2 separate regions of the Homo sapiens genome follow, and region 1 is linked to region 2. Evidence: fine-mapped expression QTL. A gene starts in region 2. The other region holds a variant in brackets. All regions are shown on one strand. Distances are between the middles of the regions. Region 1 holds the start of ICAM2 (intercellular adhesion molecule 2). Region 2 holds the start of PRR29 (proline rich 29).

The links.
Region 1: its variant is fine-mapped to the expression of PRR29 in whole blood (TOPMed, PIP above 0.99).

Annotation. Positions count from the first base shown.
Region 1 is chr17:64,015,824-64,023,823 of GRCh38, forward strand. It overlaps ICAM2 (intercellular adhesion molecule 2), which reads right to left and starts at 4,810. Exons shown (of 5, transcript NM_001099789.2): 1 at 4,700-4,810. RefSeq lists enhancers at 4,430-4,549, 4,644-5,144, 4,890-4,979, 5,200-5,249. The variant C/T (reference allele first, on the strand shown) is at 4,663.
Region 2 is chr17:63,994,404-64,002,690 of GRCh38, forward strand. PRR29 (proline rich 29) reads left to right here and starts at 3,948. Exons shown (of 6, transcript NM_001164257.2): 1 at 3,948-4,021; 2 at 4,304-4,379; 3 at 4,565-4,671; 4 at 6,681-6,907; 5 at 7,064-7,134; 6 at 7,330-8,287. The coding sequence starts at 3,962. The coding sequence ends at 7,358. It overlaps ICAM2 (intercellular adhesion molecule 2), which reads right to left. Exons shown (of 5, transcript NM_001099789.2): 5 at 8,192-8,287. It overlaps PRR29-AS1 (PRR29 antisense RNA 1), which reads right to left and starts at 5,496. Exons shown (of 3, transcript NR_126169.1): 1 at 3,922-5,496; 2 at 3,362-3,519; 3 at 1,668-2,860. RefSeq lists a silencer at 3,831-3,880 and an enhancer at 4,134-5,111.

The sequences.
Region 1 (8,000 bases), 21 kb after region 2:
TTTGCAGAAGTTCAAGTAAGGGTAACTCTTTAAAAAAAATTATTATTATTATTTTTTTTAGAAATGGAGTTTTGCTGTATTGCCCAGGCTAGTCTCAAACTCTTGGGCTCAAGAGATCTTCCTGCCTTAGTCTCTTGAGTAACTGGGACTATAGGCATACAGCACTGTGCCTGGTTAGTAATTCTAATTTTATAAAAACTCTCTCTGAGAATGGAAAAAATGAAAACATTAACTCTTTCCATGAGGCCAGTGTAACCTTAATATCTAAACAAGACAAGTACAGGAAGAGAAAGCAATATTAGAGGCCAGTTTCACTCATGACTATAAATGCAACAGTTATAAGAAAAATACTGGTAAATCAAATCCGGCAGTGTAAAAACCAAAAGGCATCACATTCTAGTTGGGTTTATCTCAGGTTTGCAAGGATGGTTTAACAACGAAGAAATGTCTATAAACATTATTTATTATGTTGGTAATAGTAGACTTTGGTGCTCTGTGTCATATCACTTCTGCCCTCTGCTGATTTCAGCTGTCCCTACAGTGGATGATTTTGTGCAAGCCTAGACTCCCTTTTAAGCTGCCAGTGCCCCTCCACCTACCCCCAAACTTATACTATGCTTCTTTTTGCTTTTCGTCTCAGGGTCTTCTTCAATGCTTTAGGAACAATTTACTTGCCAGCTAGTGATTCCCAGAAGTGTGGGAGAGTTAAGGTCCCTAGAATGCGATCCTTACCCAGTTGGGGAACAGGAGCCAGTGGATATACTTTCCAGCCTCCTTCTTGCCAGTGGGCAATTCTGAGAGACATCCTGTAGTTTTATCAGAGGTCTCAGCAGAATAAGCTTCCGTCGCCTACAGCTGCAACATCAGTCACCCTCCTTTAAATGGGCTTTTCCTTCCTTCCTGTCTGTTTTCCCTGCTCCTTCACCCCCTGCTTCCTGGAATCACCTCTCAAATAACCTATCTGAATCTAAGTCCTTGCTCCAGCCTCTGCTTTGGAACAAAGGATTCTGCTTTAGAGCAAAAGGAGACCAAACTAAAACTTACATTAACAGATTTAAAAAGAAAAAACATACGATAATATCAACAGATTAAAAAAATTGACAACATTCAACACCCTTTTATGATACAAGCTCTTAGCAAATTAGAAGCAAATGTCCTTAACCTGATAAAGAAAACTTACATAAAACTTCTATGTTGTTTTTAATGAGTAAATCTTAGGAGAATTTCCTTTAAAATCAGGAAGAGACAAAGATGCCTATGATTTCTGCCTCTGTTTAATATTGTACCAAAGGTCTTACACATTGCAGTAAAAGGAAAGGAAGGAAGGAAGGAAAGGCGATCAAAACCATCGGTATTTGTATATGGCGTGACTACCCAGGTAGAAAATCCAAAAGAATCATCAGGCAAGTGACTCAAAGTAATAAGAGATTTTAGCAAGGCAACTAGCTAAAAGATCAATATTCAAAAATTGGTTGTTCTTGTGTGTATCAGTAACATACAAAAACATAATTTAAAAAATACATCAATTATAACAGTCAAAAAAGTAGAGCAAGAAAACTAACAAAACCTAGAACTATAAGACCTATAGTAAGAAAATTATAATACTTTATTGAAAAATATTAAAGACAATCTAAATAAATGGAGAGATAACACATGTTCATGGATAGGAAATTCAATATTATAAAGATGTAAATTATTCTGTAACTGATCTATAGGGTCAGTGCAATTCCAATTAACCCCAGTAGGGTTTTTCATGGAAACTGAAAGCTGATTTTAAGGTTTATATGGAAGAACAAAAGAACCAAGACGCCCCTAAAGGAAATGAATAAGGTGAGGGATTTGCTCTGCTAGATATTAAGACTTTCTGTAAAATATGGTGTTAGCGTAGGTATAGGCAAATTAACTGATGAAACAGAATAAAGAGCCCAGAAATACACCTATGCTTGTTTGAAACTTTGATGCATGACAAAGATGACATAGAAGATCACTGGGTAAGAGAAGAGCCTGTTAAATGACACAGGATCAATTGATTAACCATATAGAGAAAAAAAGGGGAAAATGTATCCCTATCTCACACCAAATATAGAAATCAATTCCATTTAGATTAAGGATTTATATGTGAAAGAAACTCTTTATAAGAAAATGTAGGAGAGTATTTCCATATCCTTGGGGCAAGACCTCGAAATTGTCAATCATAAAATCAACAATTGGTATCTTTGACTAAGATACAAAGAAACAGGTCGGGTGCGGCTGTGACGCCAGCACTTTGGGAGGCCGAGGCGGGCTGATCACGCGGTCAGAAGATCGAGACCATCCTGGCCAACATGGTGAAACCCCATCGCTACTGAAAATACAAAAAAATTAGCCAGGCATGGTGGCGGGCACCTGTAGTCCCAGCTACTCGGGAGGCTGAGGCAGGAGAATGGCGTGAACCTAGGAGGCGGAGCTTGCAGTGAGCTGAGATCGCGACACTGCATTCCAGCCTGGGTGACAGAGTGAGACTCTATCTCAAAAAAAAAAAAAAAAAAAAAAAAGACACAAAGAAACATTTCAAAGAAAAGGAAACATGTCTAAACAAGTGAAAAGATTATTTAGCTCGAGTAGCCAGGGAAATTAAAATTAAAATTACAATGGGACCGATACTATTTTATATGTATTAGGTTGGCAAAAGTTAAGAAATATGACAAGACCAATTGTTGGAGAGGCCGTAGGTTAATAGGCACCCTTCTAACTGCTGATGAGAGTGTATATTGGTGCTCTCAGAGATAATTAGGCATTATCTTGTAAACGGAATATTCTTATACCCTGTAACTCACAGTTCCATTCTTAGATGTATGCCCTAGAAACGCTGTCACACTAAGAACCAGACATGTCTTTGTGTTTACTTCTCTTTTTTTTTTTTTTTTTTTTTTTTTTGAGACGGGGTCTCGTTGTGTCGCCCAGGCTGGAGTGCAGTGGCGCGATCTTGGCTTACTGCAACCTCCACCTCCCGGGTTCGAGCTATTCTCCTGCCTCAGTCTCCCGAATAGCTGAAACTACAGGCGTACGCCACCACACCCAGCTAATTTTTGTATTTTTAGTAGAGATGGGGTTTCATCTTGTTGGCCAGGACCGTCTCTATCTCTTGACCTCATGATCCTCCTGCCTTGGCCTCCCAAAGTGCTGGGATTACAGGCATGAGCCACTGCTCCCGGCCTTACTTCTCACTATCTGTGTGACCTTGAGCAAATCACTTAATCTTTCTGTGCCTCAATTTCCTCATCTGCAAAAAGGAATCAATAATAGTATCTTCCTCATAGGGTTTTTGTGCAGATTAAACAAATAAAATAAGTAAATATTTTAAAGCATTTAGAACAGTGCCTAGCACACAGTAACGCTATATAACTGTTTCATAAAATAAAAATAAATAGGCATAGCCAGGTGCAGCAGTTCAAGACTGTAGTCCCAACTAATCAGGAGGCTGAGGTGGGAAGATCACTGGATCCCAGGAGTTCGAGGTTGTAGTGTGCTATGATCATGCCTGTGAATAGCCACTGCACTCCAGCCTGGGAAATATAGTGTGACCCCATCTCAGTAAATAAATAAATAAATAAATAAATAGAGATGCATATGTAATAAAGCACTTAAAAATAAGAGAACAATAAACACAAAATTCCAGAGGGTGGCTACCTGTGGGTGGGAGGCAAGTAGCATAAAAGTGGACAAGTGGTGGCCAGGTGTGGTGGCTCACGCCTGTAATCCCAGCATTTTGGGAGGCCGAGGTGGGCGGATCATGAGGTCAAGAGATCGAGACTCTCCTGGCCAACATAGTGAAACCCTGTCGCTACCAAAAACACAAAAATTAGCTGGGCATGGTGGCATGCGCACCTGTAGTCCCAGCTACTTGGGAGGCTGAGACAAGAGAATCGCTTGAACCCAGCAGGCGAAGGTTGTGGTGAGCCAAGATTGTGCCACTGCACTCCAGCCTGGGCGACAAGAATGAAAACTCTGTCTCAAAAAAAAAAAAAAAAAAAAAAAGCAGATAAGTGGTGTTTGCAGTTTGGTGATACTCCATCCTTGTGCTGAGTGGCAGCTTCAGGTGTGTTTGGTATATTACTGTGCAGTATGATGTATATGTATGTTACATAAGCTTTTTATGCGTTACCTAGTAAATTTTACAAAAATAATAAAAGGGAAAAAGGGCCTTTCTACGTGCCTAGAAAGAAGAGGCTTCATGGGAATGTGAGCCATGGGTTAGGAAAGACCCCCTCGAACCGAGGCAGGTAGGAAGTGAGTGACTGAGATTCATTATGAACCCACCACGCCTGCCGGGGAGAACAGGGACTGTCCCTTCCCCTCTGCATCAGCTCAGATGGTCCAGATCACAGCCCACGTGGGCCCCTAAATAAGGAGGCAGCCCCACATTTCTACATCGGCCACCGAGATGGCAGAGCAGAGGAAGGAGAGAGGGGAGACAAATCAGGAAAGGAGCGCCAGGGCAAGTGCGTGAGCTCAGAGACCCAGCAGGGCAGGGCAGGAGCTTCACAGAGTGCAGAATGTCGAGCCACAGGAGCGCTGGGGATTCCCCAACCCCTGCACTTACCAGCGAGAAACTGAGACCCAGAGAGGGGAACGGACTAAAACTCAGACCTCGACACTGCCAAAATCCTTCCCATGCTGCCA[C/T]GCTTCATTGGAGGGAAAGTGAGAAGCTCAACCTTACCCCTGTGGGCTCCAAGAAGGGTAGCTCTGGGATCCCGGGCAGGAAATTGGTGACAAGGTGACAAGGTGCGCGTGTCACAGCTGCCCAGTTCACGGCTTATTCAGTCTTCTCCCTCCCCCCACTCCCCACCAGAAGTGACGTGCTTCCTGTGCCCCGGTTCCCACCCTAAACTAGCCTCATTTAGCTCCACTCCCATTCCGCTTTTTTTTTTTTTAATTGTGGTAAAACGTACACAACAGAATTTACCATTTCAATTTTTTTTTTTTTTTTAGACTGAGTCTCAGTCACCCAGGCTGGAGTGCAGTGGTGTGATCTCGGCTCACTGCAACCTCTGCCTCCCGAGTTCACGTGATTCTTGTGCCTCAGCCCGCAGAGTAACCGGGACCACAGGCACCTGCCACCACGCCTGGCTAATTTTTGTATTTTTAGTAGAGACAGGGTTTCACCATGTTGGCCAGGCTGGTCTCGAACTCCTGACCTCAAGTGAACTGCCTTCCTCGGCCTCCTAAAGTGCTAGGATTACAGGCAAGAGCCACTGCGTCCAGCCAATTTTTTGTTGTGTTGTTTTTAAGACAGAGTCTTGCTTTTGTCACCTAGGCTGGAGTGCAGTGGCACAATCACAGTTCGTGGCAACCTCTGACCCCTGAGCTCAAGTGACCCTCCCTCCTCAACTTCCCAAGTGACTGGGACTACAAGTGTGCAGCCACCAGGCTTGGCTAATTTCTGTAGTTTTTGTAGAGACAGAGTGTTGCTTATGTTGCCCAGCCTGGTCTCAAACTCTTGAGCTCAAGCAATCCTCCCACCTCAGCCTCCCAAATGCTGGGAATGAGCCACCGTGCTAGGCCCATTTTAATTATGTTTAAGTGTACAGTTTGGGGCACTAAGTACATTCACATTGTTCTGCAACCATCACCACCATCCATCTCTGGAGCTCTCTCTTTCTCTTTTCTTTCTTTTTTTTTTTTTGAGATGGAGTTTCGCTCTGTTGCCCAGGCTGGAGTGCAGTGGTGTGATCTTGGCTCACTGTAACCTCTGCCTCCCAGGTTCAAACGATTCTCTTGCCTCAGTGTTTTTGTTGTTGTTGTTGTTGTTTGTTTGTTTGTTTGTTTTGTAGAGATGGAGCCTCACTCTGTCGCCCAGGCTGGAGTGCTGGAGTGCAGTGGTGTGATCTCGGCTCACTGCAACCTCCGCCTCCCGAGTTCAAGCAATTCTCCTGCCTCAGCCTCCTGAGTAGCTGGGACTACAGGTGCACGCCACCACGCCTGGTTAATTTCTTTTGTATTTTAGCAGAGATGGGGTTTCACCATGTTGCCTAGGCTGGTCTCAAACTCTTGAGCTCAGGCAATCCGCCCGCCTTGGCCTCCCAAAGTGTTGGGATTACAGGCATGAGCCACCGTGCCTGGCCTTGCCTCAGCCTCTTGAGTAGCTGGGATTACAGGCACGTGCCGACTGGCTAATTTTTGTATTTTTAGTAGAGATGGGGTTTCATCATGTCGGCCAGGCTGGTCTCGAACTCCTGACCTCAAATGATCCGCCCACCTCAGCCTCCCAAAGTGCTGGTATTACAGGCATGAACCACCACGCTTGGCCAGAACTGCCTTCCTTTTGAAGGCTGAGCAATATCCTATTGTGCGTGTGTGCCGCATTCTGTTCATGCATTCATATACTGATGGACACCTGTGTTGCTTCCACCTTTGGCTATTGTGAATAGTGCTGCTACAAACAGGGTTGTACAAATACCTGCTCAAGACTCTGCTTTCAGTTCTCTGGGGTATGTACCCAGAAGTGGAAATGCTGGATCATAATGGTAAAATATACACAACAAAATCTACCATCTTAACCTTTTTTCTTTTTTTTTTTTAGTGGTAATTCTGACTGGGCTTGGTGGCTCACACTTGTAAATCCGGCACTTTGGGAGGCTGAGGTGGGAGGATTGCTTGAGTCTAGGACTTCAAGACCAGCCTGGGTGACAAAGTGAGACCCCATCGCTACAAAAAAAAAAAAAAGTAATTTTGTTTAATTTTTGAAGATTTGCCATCCTGTTTTCCTTACTCCTCCCTTTGATGTGCAGTTTCTGTACTCACTGGGGCCTTCTGTGAATGAGGCAGTTCCAGGACAAGCTACCTTCTGGTCCCCCAAGTGAGGCAGGCGAAGATCACAGAGCTGAGGCTTCCTTGGCTGTGACACACCATTCCAAAAAAGCCTCTTATTAGTGACTAAGACCTATCACTTCATCAAATCTTATCAGACCTGCCACCTTGCCTAGCAATTTTACAACAATTACTCTAGAAGAGTGACTTTGTACAAACAAGCAGAAAGTATGAACACTGGGTGCAGAGGTGGGTGGCGGGCAGCCAGCTAGGCTCACCCACGAGCAGAGGATCTTGCTCCCACGGGCCAGCCTCACAGCACATTGAAACTTCTGGCTTAGCAAAGTCACAAATTAGACCATTCAGAGGCCAGGAGGACAGTCAAGGCCACACATTGCTCTGGCGCAATTTCTCTTGGTGCTTGTGTGCATCAATTTCTTCAGCTCAGTTCTTTTTGGAATCTCCTTGTCATACTGCTGGCAAAACAGAGCCAATATAAAATGACTATGGTGGGAAGGAGGCAGCAGGGCCCAGAGCTTTGAAGGGCCCACGTGACTTTAATGTTTTGGTGGCATCTGTCATAGACACAAATGGGGGTGGATGTCCCATTTGGGACAATTTCTCCAGGAGCCATGTTTGGACTCACCCTTTTTTAAAGATAACCCCTTCTTTTTCTACTTTAGACAAGTTTTTTGGGAAGCTTCCATCTTCCTACTCAGCTCCACCTTCCTGGTCAAATGATTGGTCCAAGGTTGGCATCATGGTACCTCACCTTCTGGCTCTTTCTTTTTTTTATCCTTTTTTTTTCCTTTCTTTTTGAGACAGAGTCTTGCTCTATCGCCCAGGCTGGAGGACAGTGATGGTGTGATCTCAGCTCACTGCAACCTCTGCCTCCCAGGTTCAAGGGATTCTCCTGCCTCAACCTCCTGAGTAGATGGGATTACAGGCATCTGCCACCATGTCCACCTAATTTTTGTATTTTTAGTAGAGACGGGGTTTCACCATATTGGCCAGGCTGGTCTTGAACTCTTGACCTCAAGTGATCTGCCTGCCTCGGCCTTCCAAAGTGCTGGGATTACAGGAGTGAGCCACTGTGCCTGGCCAGAACTGCCTTCCTTTTGAAGGCTGAGTAATATTTTATTGTGCGTGTGTGCTGCATTCTGTTCATCCATTCATATATTGAGGGACACCTGTGTTGCTTCCACCTTTGG
Region 2 (8,287 bases):
CAATATTCTTTTGAGTGAACTGCCTTAATTCACTCAACCATCCCCCTATTATTAGACATTGGGTAATGTTCAATTTTTCCTTTTTCTTTTTTTTTCGAGACAGAGTCTCACTGTGTCGCCCAGTGCAATGGCACCATCTCAGCTCAGTGCAACCTCCACCTCCTGGGTTCAAGCAATTCTCCTGCCTTAGACTCCCGAGTAGCTGGGATTACAAGTGCCCGCCACCAAGCCTGGCTAATTTTTGTATTTTTAGTAGAGACAGGGTTTCATCATGTTGGCCAGGCTGGTCTCAAACTCCTGACCTCAAATGACCCACCTGCCACGGCCTCCCAGAGTGCTGCGATTACAGGCGTGAGCCACCATGTCCTGCCAAATGTTTAATTTTTAACCCTTTAAAAATAACACTATGATGAACATTTTTTAGTATAAATCTTCTCCTATGTTTAGCTTATTCCCAGAAATAGATTTACCAAGGCAATGGGGAGGACTTTTAGCACATATTGTCTTGGATCACTAAAAAAAAAAAAAAAAAAAAAATCTGAAAAACAAAATAATCCAAAGAGGCCAACAAGAGTTCCTATTGAGAAGAAAATAAAAAAGAAATAGGTGGAGTGTTCAGTGTCTCAAAGAAAATAATAGCAGGCAAGTCAAATAGCAGGAAAGTAAGTCATCTCCTATTCTGCTGCGCTGATGTGAGATCTTCTATGAGCAAAATAGCTCAGGCAGATAAGTGTGTGGCTTTCCTTTCTTCATGGCAAATGCTTCCGTTTCTTTTGACAAATACATCGAATGGAATACCATAAGTCAGATAGTTTTGATCTCAGCCTTGTTTTTCAAAACACAAGCGGTTAACATGCCCTTTTACCTCTGAGGGATTGGAATGATCACCTCCTCCTGACTGTTTTCTACGGCCACCTCTAGCCCACTGCAGGCTTCCTTAGAGGGACAAGTGTGGCAGCCTCTTTGCTGGGCCCCCTGCCTCCAGCCTTGCTTCAGTTGAATCTATTGACCATTGTACACCCAAACTCATTTTCTTCAATGTCTATTTCAGTATTTCACATCTCTGAATGCAGATGTATCATAGAGCTACTTAAGTCCCTTTTCCAGGAGTTTTCAGTAGCCTGGAGGCAGATGTGGAGCGAGTAGGAGGCTGATGTCTTCGTTGGGATCCCCCAAAAGCAGACCCTGACACAGGCTTGGGGAGCAGTCGTTTCTTTGGAAGGAGATCCAAATGAGCACTACGAGAGAGTGGAGAAGGGACAGGGAGAGGAGAAAAGGCAGTAAAGTGTGTGTTTCTGAGCAGGTCACTGTGGGCCACCTGGGCACAAGCCCACAGGCATCACTGAGAGGCTCTGTGGGAGACACCTCAGAGTTGTCGCACTGAGACCAGGAGGCTGCGAGTTTAGCTATCAACTCCCATCCATTATTGCTTGTGGGCTGCTCCTGTGCCACCTTCTGGCCTGTCTTACCTGTGGCCAGGTGTCCTCAGGTGGAGGGGCTGTAGGTGAGGGCAGGAACCCTCTGCAGAAGACTCTAGGGGAGGCTGCGGGTCGGCCAACTCTGACAGCTGCTCCACAGTTGGATCTGTGTGTGTGTGTGTATGTGTATTCACACACACACACATGTACATACACACATGTATATGCATATGAATTTTTTTTTTTTTTAGATGGAGTCTCTGTTGCCCAGGCTGAAGTGCAGTGGCATGATCTCGGCTCACTGCAACCTCCACCTCCCAGGTTCAAGCGATTCTCCTGCCTCAGCCTCCTGAGTGTCTGGGATTGCAGGCACCCGCCACCACTCCCGGCTAATTTTTGTATTTTTAGTAGAGACAGGGTTTCACCATGTTGGCCAGGCTGGTCCCGAACTCCTGACCTCAAGTGATCTGCCTGCCTTGGCCTCCCAAACTGCTGGGATTACAGGCGTGAGCCACCGTGCCTGGACTTATGCATATGATTTTTAAAACAAAAATAAGATCTTACTATGCTTACTGATATTTTTGACTCAACTGTCTTGGACAACTTTTCACATCAACAGAGATATTCTATTCCCACATTATCCATGGTTGAATAGTATTCTATTGGGAGGATGCATCCCCATCAGACATTTGTTTGTTCGTTTGTTTTAGAAACTGGGTCTCACCCTGTTTCCCAGGCTGGAGTGCAGTGACGTGATCGTAGCTCACAGCATCCTTGAATCCCTGGGCTTGAGCGATCCTCCTGCCTCAGCCTCCTGAGTAGCTGGCACTATAGGCACAAGCCACCGCACCTGACCCCCTATCAGACATTTGTTACTTCTAAATGTGGTTGACATAAACAAAGGTGGACAAGAACAATCTTCCTGAAACATGGCTGGCCACAGCACTTGGTATCTCCCTTTTGCTTGAAACCCACTGATAGCTCTCCATTACCCACAGGGCCAAGCCTAAATTCCAAACCTTGGCATTCCAAACCTTGGCCTGTCCCTGGACCTCTGCTCTCTGCCCAGCTCCTCTTCTACAGTCAGACAGTTTGACCCACCGGGTCATCTCAGGTCCTGTCCATTCATACACCTGGGTCTTGGCTTGGGCTCTGTCCCCAGCCTGATAGCGCCCGTCTTCCCCTGCTGCTTGGCCCCATCAAGGACTGACTTCCTTGGAACTCCATCCCTCAGCGGTCAAGTCCTCTCTTTTTCATTATCCCCGGGGCGTAGTCTTATCTTTCTGCTCTCTTTCCATGGATACATTTTCACTTCCCAACAATGCTGGGACAAGTGACCATACTGCTTATGCCTCCAGGGTTCAGATGGCACATTGCACACGCAGACACTTCCTTGGTCAAGGTTTGTTGATGATGAGCAAAATGGCTTGTTCTCTTTCTACCTGGAATGAGAATGGAGATGGAGAGAGGCATCTCTGTGTTCTACTCACTGGGGGGCTGTGACCCCAGTGCCTGGATCTCAGCTTGTTAATGGCTGTTGAAGCCATAAGACCCATGGGGACAGTAAAGTAATGCCCACAAGCCTGCTCCCCTAGAGACAGGTACTACGGAGCAAAGGAGGAGGTGGGAATGGTCTTTCTGGTTCTTACTCCAGGACTGGCAGGAAGGGGAGCTGACATGGAGAGTGGGGGAAGGGCTACTCGGGGTGCTAAGCCCAGCTTCCTGTCTGGATTTTCCTTGACTGCTGCCGGGGGCCTATCTTAGGATGGTCACAGCTGCAGAAATAGATCTCCCCCTTCACCTGTTCTTAAGCAAGGAAGACCTTGCTAACTTCCTGTCAAAAGAACGCGTGCTTTGGTAACTTTTCCAGTACGGGAGACAGTACTGGGGACGCGGGTGCTGAAGTCACCACGATTTTCCTCGTCTGAGGAGCAGTGGCTCACCTTGGCCAGGAAACAGGGCAAATAGCCGCAAGGAGAGAGGCGAGAAGCCGGCCACGTGTTTCCAGCCAGAGTCCTCAGCCTCTTCCGTGAATTCGGGCGGTGTTTCCTTCCTTGGTCTGCTCCAGAAACCACTCTTTCCTGGCAGGAAGCCCCTCTCTCTGTCAGAGTGACAGGGAACAGACCCTTTGTCCTCCTCACTCGTCTGCCCTAGCCCCCAGCCTGCTCCTGCAAAAGTCTCTGTTTCTCCTGAACTTTTCAGCTGAGTCAATCGGGCTCTGGGACCCCGAAACCAAGCCTCCCCAGTCACTCGCTTATTCACTCAACAAACACACCCCCCTTCCCCGCACTAACCCAGGCCCAGTTCTGGGAACCAGCAAGGGGAGGGGAGGGGAGCCCCGAGCAGCGCGGCGGGAGGTGGACATGCCGGGGAGGAGACTGGCCTCCTGGTGGCGGGGGAGGGCTCCTGGGGACCCCAAGTCCGCGGAGGAGGAGACAGGAGGGAGCAGGGAGATGGAAGACCCAGGAGCACGGGCGGGCTCCGCGCATGCGTGGGAAGAGACCTTGGCGTCCTCGGCGTCGCCAAGGCAACCGGCGCCAGCCATGGCCTCTGGGGCGGGCGGAAGCTGGGGTCGCTCCCCACCGCAGAGCGCAGTCCCGACGGTGAGGGCTGAGCCCGGGAGCAGATCCTGCCTTAGCTTGGGAGACGGCAGAGTGGGGAGCTGTCCCTGGAGGGGCCAGATCCTGGAGGGGTGGGGGACGAGGAGAGACAGCCCCAAACCGAGAGGAAGAGGCGTGGCAGGGAGCAGGGAGGCCGCGGGGCGGGGAGGAGAGAACCTGGCCCCTGCGGGGTTAGGGAGGCCACTGGCCGGGGGGGTTGGGGCTCGCGACGTGTCCCCATCCATTCCCCCCACCCCACCTGGCTGACTCCGCGCACACCCCCAGCCCTGGGTCACCTTCCTGCAGCCCCTCTCGTGGGCCGTCCCACCTGCGCCCCCGCAGCCAGGCCGCGTGAAGGAAGGTGAGACTCCCGGGTCCCCCCACCCCACCCCCACCATCACCACCACTCACCCTCTTCTGCCTCGCACATCCTCTGGGAGTCCCCGCAGCACAACCCGCCAACCCATTCTTCACCCCCGGGACAGGGGTGTCAGGGGGAGGGGGACTCGGAGGCCCGGCGTGGGCTTGCTGAACCCCGCTTCCTAGACCTGCTGGAACTGATGATGCTGCAGAACGCGCAGATGCACCAGCTGCTGCTGAGTCGCCTGGTGGCTGGAGCGCTGCAGCCCCGGCCTGCCTCGCCCTGCCCTCAGGTGCGTGTGGGTGGGCCGCCGGGGTCGCTCACCTGTGGGTCCAGGGATGCGGATCCACCTGGGGTTCCTGTTCAGGGGGGAAAAGAACTGGGAGACAGAGGAGCAGGAAGCCAGCCCGTCTCTCTGGCTGGGGCTGTTTGGCATCTGTCATGTTTCAGCCTCCATGAAAGGTTGGGGCGGGGAAGAGACCCCCCAAAGTCCAGACCACCGAGGTCTTGTTTTCAAGGAGGTTTCCCTGTAGTGCCTCCCCCACTGGACTTAAGGCTCCAGGAAGGTAGGCACCCTGGTAACCCTGCCCCATGCATCATGAGCGTCTGGCCTGGTGCCTGACACCGTGTAGGGGCTCAGCTGATATTTGTTGAACGAGTGAATGAATAAATGAATGGTTAGGGATACAAAGCCAGGTTGGCTGTGATGGCACATGGAGAGGTACAAAGCACAAGTGCACATAGGGTTGGGGGATGGGGACAGGCTCCTTGGAGGAGCAGAGGATCTTAGAACCAGCCCTTGAAAGCCAGGTAGGATTTTGACCCTTGGAGGAGGCGAAGGGTGTGTCCCCCATCCAGGCTGGCAGGGGCAGAGTCAGGAGACAGAATGGGGGAAACCGTGTGCGGCAGTGTGTGTGTGCAAGAGTGTGTGTGTGTATGTGTGTGCAAGTGGGTGTCTGTGTGCATGCGTGTGTGTGTGCAAGGCTGTGTACATGCATATGTGTGTGCAAGTGTGTGTTCACGTGCGTGTGCAAGGGTGTGCGTGCACGTGTGTGCGAGCGGGTTGTGAAGGCAAGTGTGTGCGTGCAAGCAAGTGTGTGCGTGCAAGCAAGTGTGTGCAAGTGGGGGTGTGTGCAAGCGTGTGTGTGCATGCATGTGCATATAGCTCTAAGGCTGAGCCTTACTCAGCCAATAGTGGGCATCCTGAGGTCAGGAGAAGCAGGGACTGGGTGGAGAGAGAATGTTGTTCAGCTCGGAGGAGGCGGAGAGGGGTTCAAGGAATCCAGACAGAAGGAGACCCTGAGGAGCTACTGCCACCCCTCACCCCTGGGTCCTCAGTGATGACACATAGGTGGGTCCAGGGGCCGGGGGTGAGGCCGGGGACAGCTCAGTGGACTCCTGGCCCCAGCTCTGGGGGTCACACCTGGAATCAACTGGGTGGCCAAGTTGCTCAACGTCCTTGAGCTACAGGAGTAAATGTCTCCACAATTTGTTGTCCGCATGTAGTAAACGCTCAATAAACACAACCCATTCTTTTTTTCTTTTCTTTTCTTTTTCTTTTTTTTGAGACGGAGTCTCTCTCTGTCACCTAGGCTGGAGTATAGTGATGCAATCTCGGCACACTGCAACTTCCACCTCCTGGGTTCAAACAACTCTCCTGCCCCAGCCTCCCGAGTAGCTGGGACCACAGGCGCCTGCCACCACACCCGGCTACTTTTTTGTGTTTTTAGTAGAGACGGGGTTTCACTATGTTAGCCAGGATGGTCTCGATCTCCTGACCTTGTGATCCGTCCGCCTCAGCCTCCCAAAGTGCCGGGATTACAGGCATGAGCCACCGCGCCCCGCCTACACAAGCCATTCTTTTTTTTTTTTTCCTTTTTTTTCTTTTGAGATGGAGTCTCGCTCTGCCGCCCAGGCTGGAGTGCAGTAGCTCGATCTCTGCTCACTGCAAGCTCCGCCTCCCGGGTTCACGCCATTCTCCTGCCTCAGCCTCCTGAGTAGCTGGGACTACAGGCGCCCACCACCATGCCCAGCTAATTTTTTTTTTTTTTTTTTTGGTATTTTTAGTAGAGACGGGGTTTCACCGTGTTAGCCAGGATGGTCTCAATCTCCTGACCTTGTGATCCGCCCGCCTCGGCCTCCCACAGTGCTGGGATTACAGGCGTGAGCCACCATGCCTGGCCACAAGCCATTCTTACAAAGCCTATCTGGAGGAAATAACTTAGGGGAATGGAGGAGTGGCGGTGGGGAGAGCCTGATGGTAGATTCTCATTTCCCCTCCCTGTTTTGCACAATCCCCAGGTCTACCTGGAGGTTCCACAGGAAGAGCCTGAGGAGGAGGAGGAGGAGATGGACGTGCGGGAGAAAGGGCCTTTGGTGTTTCACCACCACTACTTGCCCTATTTGATGCCCTCCCCGGGTGCCCTGCTGCCCTGGCCAGCCCCCTTCTTCCCCACCCCTGCTTGTCAGCCCTACTTGCAGGACGTGCCCAGGATTCAGCACTGTCCTGCCTCCAGGGAAAGGGAGGTGTAAGTGAGGCTGGGTGCTGCCAGGGTTCTGCTCTGGGCTGGAAGTTGCAGAAGAGCTGTGCAGGGGCTGGTGGTCGGTGGAGATAACTTGTGGGTGAAACTCCAGAGGCCACCCCTGGGCCTCTGATGGGGGTCTTTTTCTTTCCCCCATCTCAGGAGAGCTGTGCCCCCACCCCCACCCCCCAGTGCCACAGGGACTGTGGGTGCTGATGTACCCCCGGCTTCAGGTAGGGCTGGGGTGGTGGGCAGCGGGGCCCAGGCCTGGGAGTGAATCAGGAGGCCAGGAGGGCCCTGTGCCCTCTGGTGGGGTTTGGGGGTTTCCTAACATCACTGCTGCAGGCAACTGGCCTGTCCCCTTCCCTTTACCTCTTTGGGGTCCACTGAGACAGGAGGGAGTCAAGATGAGGTTCTTGTTTCCCCAGACTACTATGATGCCGAGAGCCTCCTATGAGGACAGACCCCGGCCCTGGGAACTGCACCAGCTTCCTGCTCTGGATACAGCCCCGGAGCCGCCTCCTGCACCTCTCTTGTCGACTCCCCGGTGCCCATGGCTGGCAGTCCTTCTCACTCCCTCAACCTCAGCCAGGCCCTCTTCTCCTGGGGAAATCAGTCCCTGCCCCACGCCAATGAGTTCCTGGACGGGCCGGATCTGTGCTGTTGTGTAAGAGCTCCCTAGAGCACCACCCAGGCCCTTGAAGCCACGTCAGCCCGCCTCTGCCCCACTGCTTCCTGCCTGGAGCAGGGGGAGGCCTGGGAACAGAGCCCCCACCCTCTCTCCCTCACCCCTCTCTCTGGGATGATGAGGTCTCCTTCCAGCCTAGTAATGGAGCAAGAGGGGAGGGGGGGATTCCTTCTGCTTTCCACAGCTTTGAAGGCCCCTTTGAGGTGGCTGGAGGGGCCCAGAGTGGTCGGGGAGAGACTTTGCTGGGCAGCGCCCCTGAGCAGAGTCAGTTCGCTGGGCCCCCCACCCCTCATCCCAGGAAGCAGCTCTGTTGGCAGAAAGGAGAGGTCAGAGCTTTGTCCTGCTGTGGCCAGGAGTGGCCTGAGGTCTCCTGGGGCCAGGTGGGAACAGTGTGTCCTCTGCCCCCTGGGCCAGGGTGTGTTTCCCCCACCCTCCCTCAGTAGCAATGAGCTACTCGGGCCAGATGGGGGCCTGTTGCATGGGCTGGGAGGCCCCTGTGAAGGAGAGGGTGGGGAGGGAGGCATCTAGGGAGAGGGGTCCCCCATGGTGGCTCCCCTCCCTGGCCATTGTTATCCCAGGAGGAGACACTGTGGGCACAGGGCTAAGTCCAGGTGTTTGTATTCGGGCTAGAAAAGGCAATGTCCCAAGTCTCTGCTGCCTGTCACAGTCCTTCAGCCAGGGCTGGACCTCAACCCTGA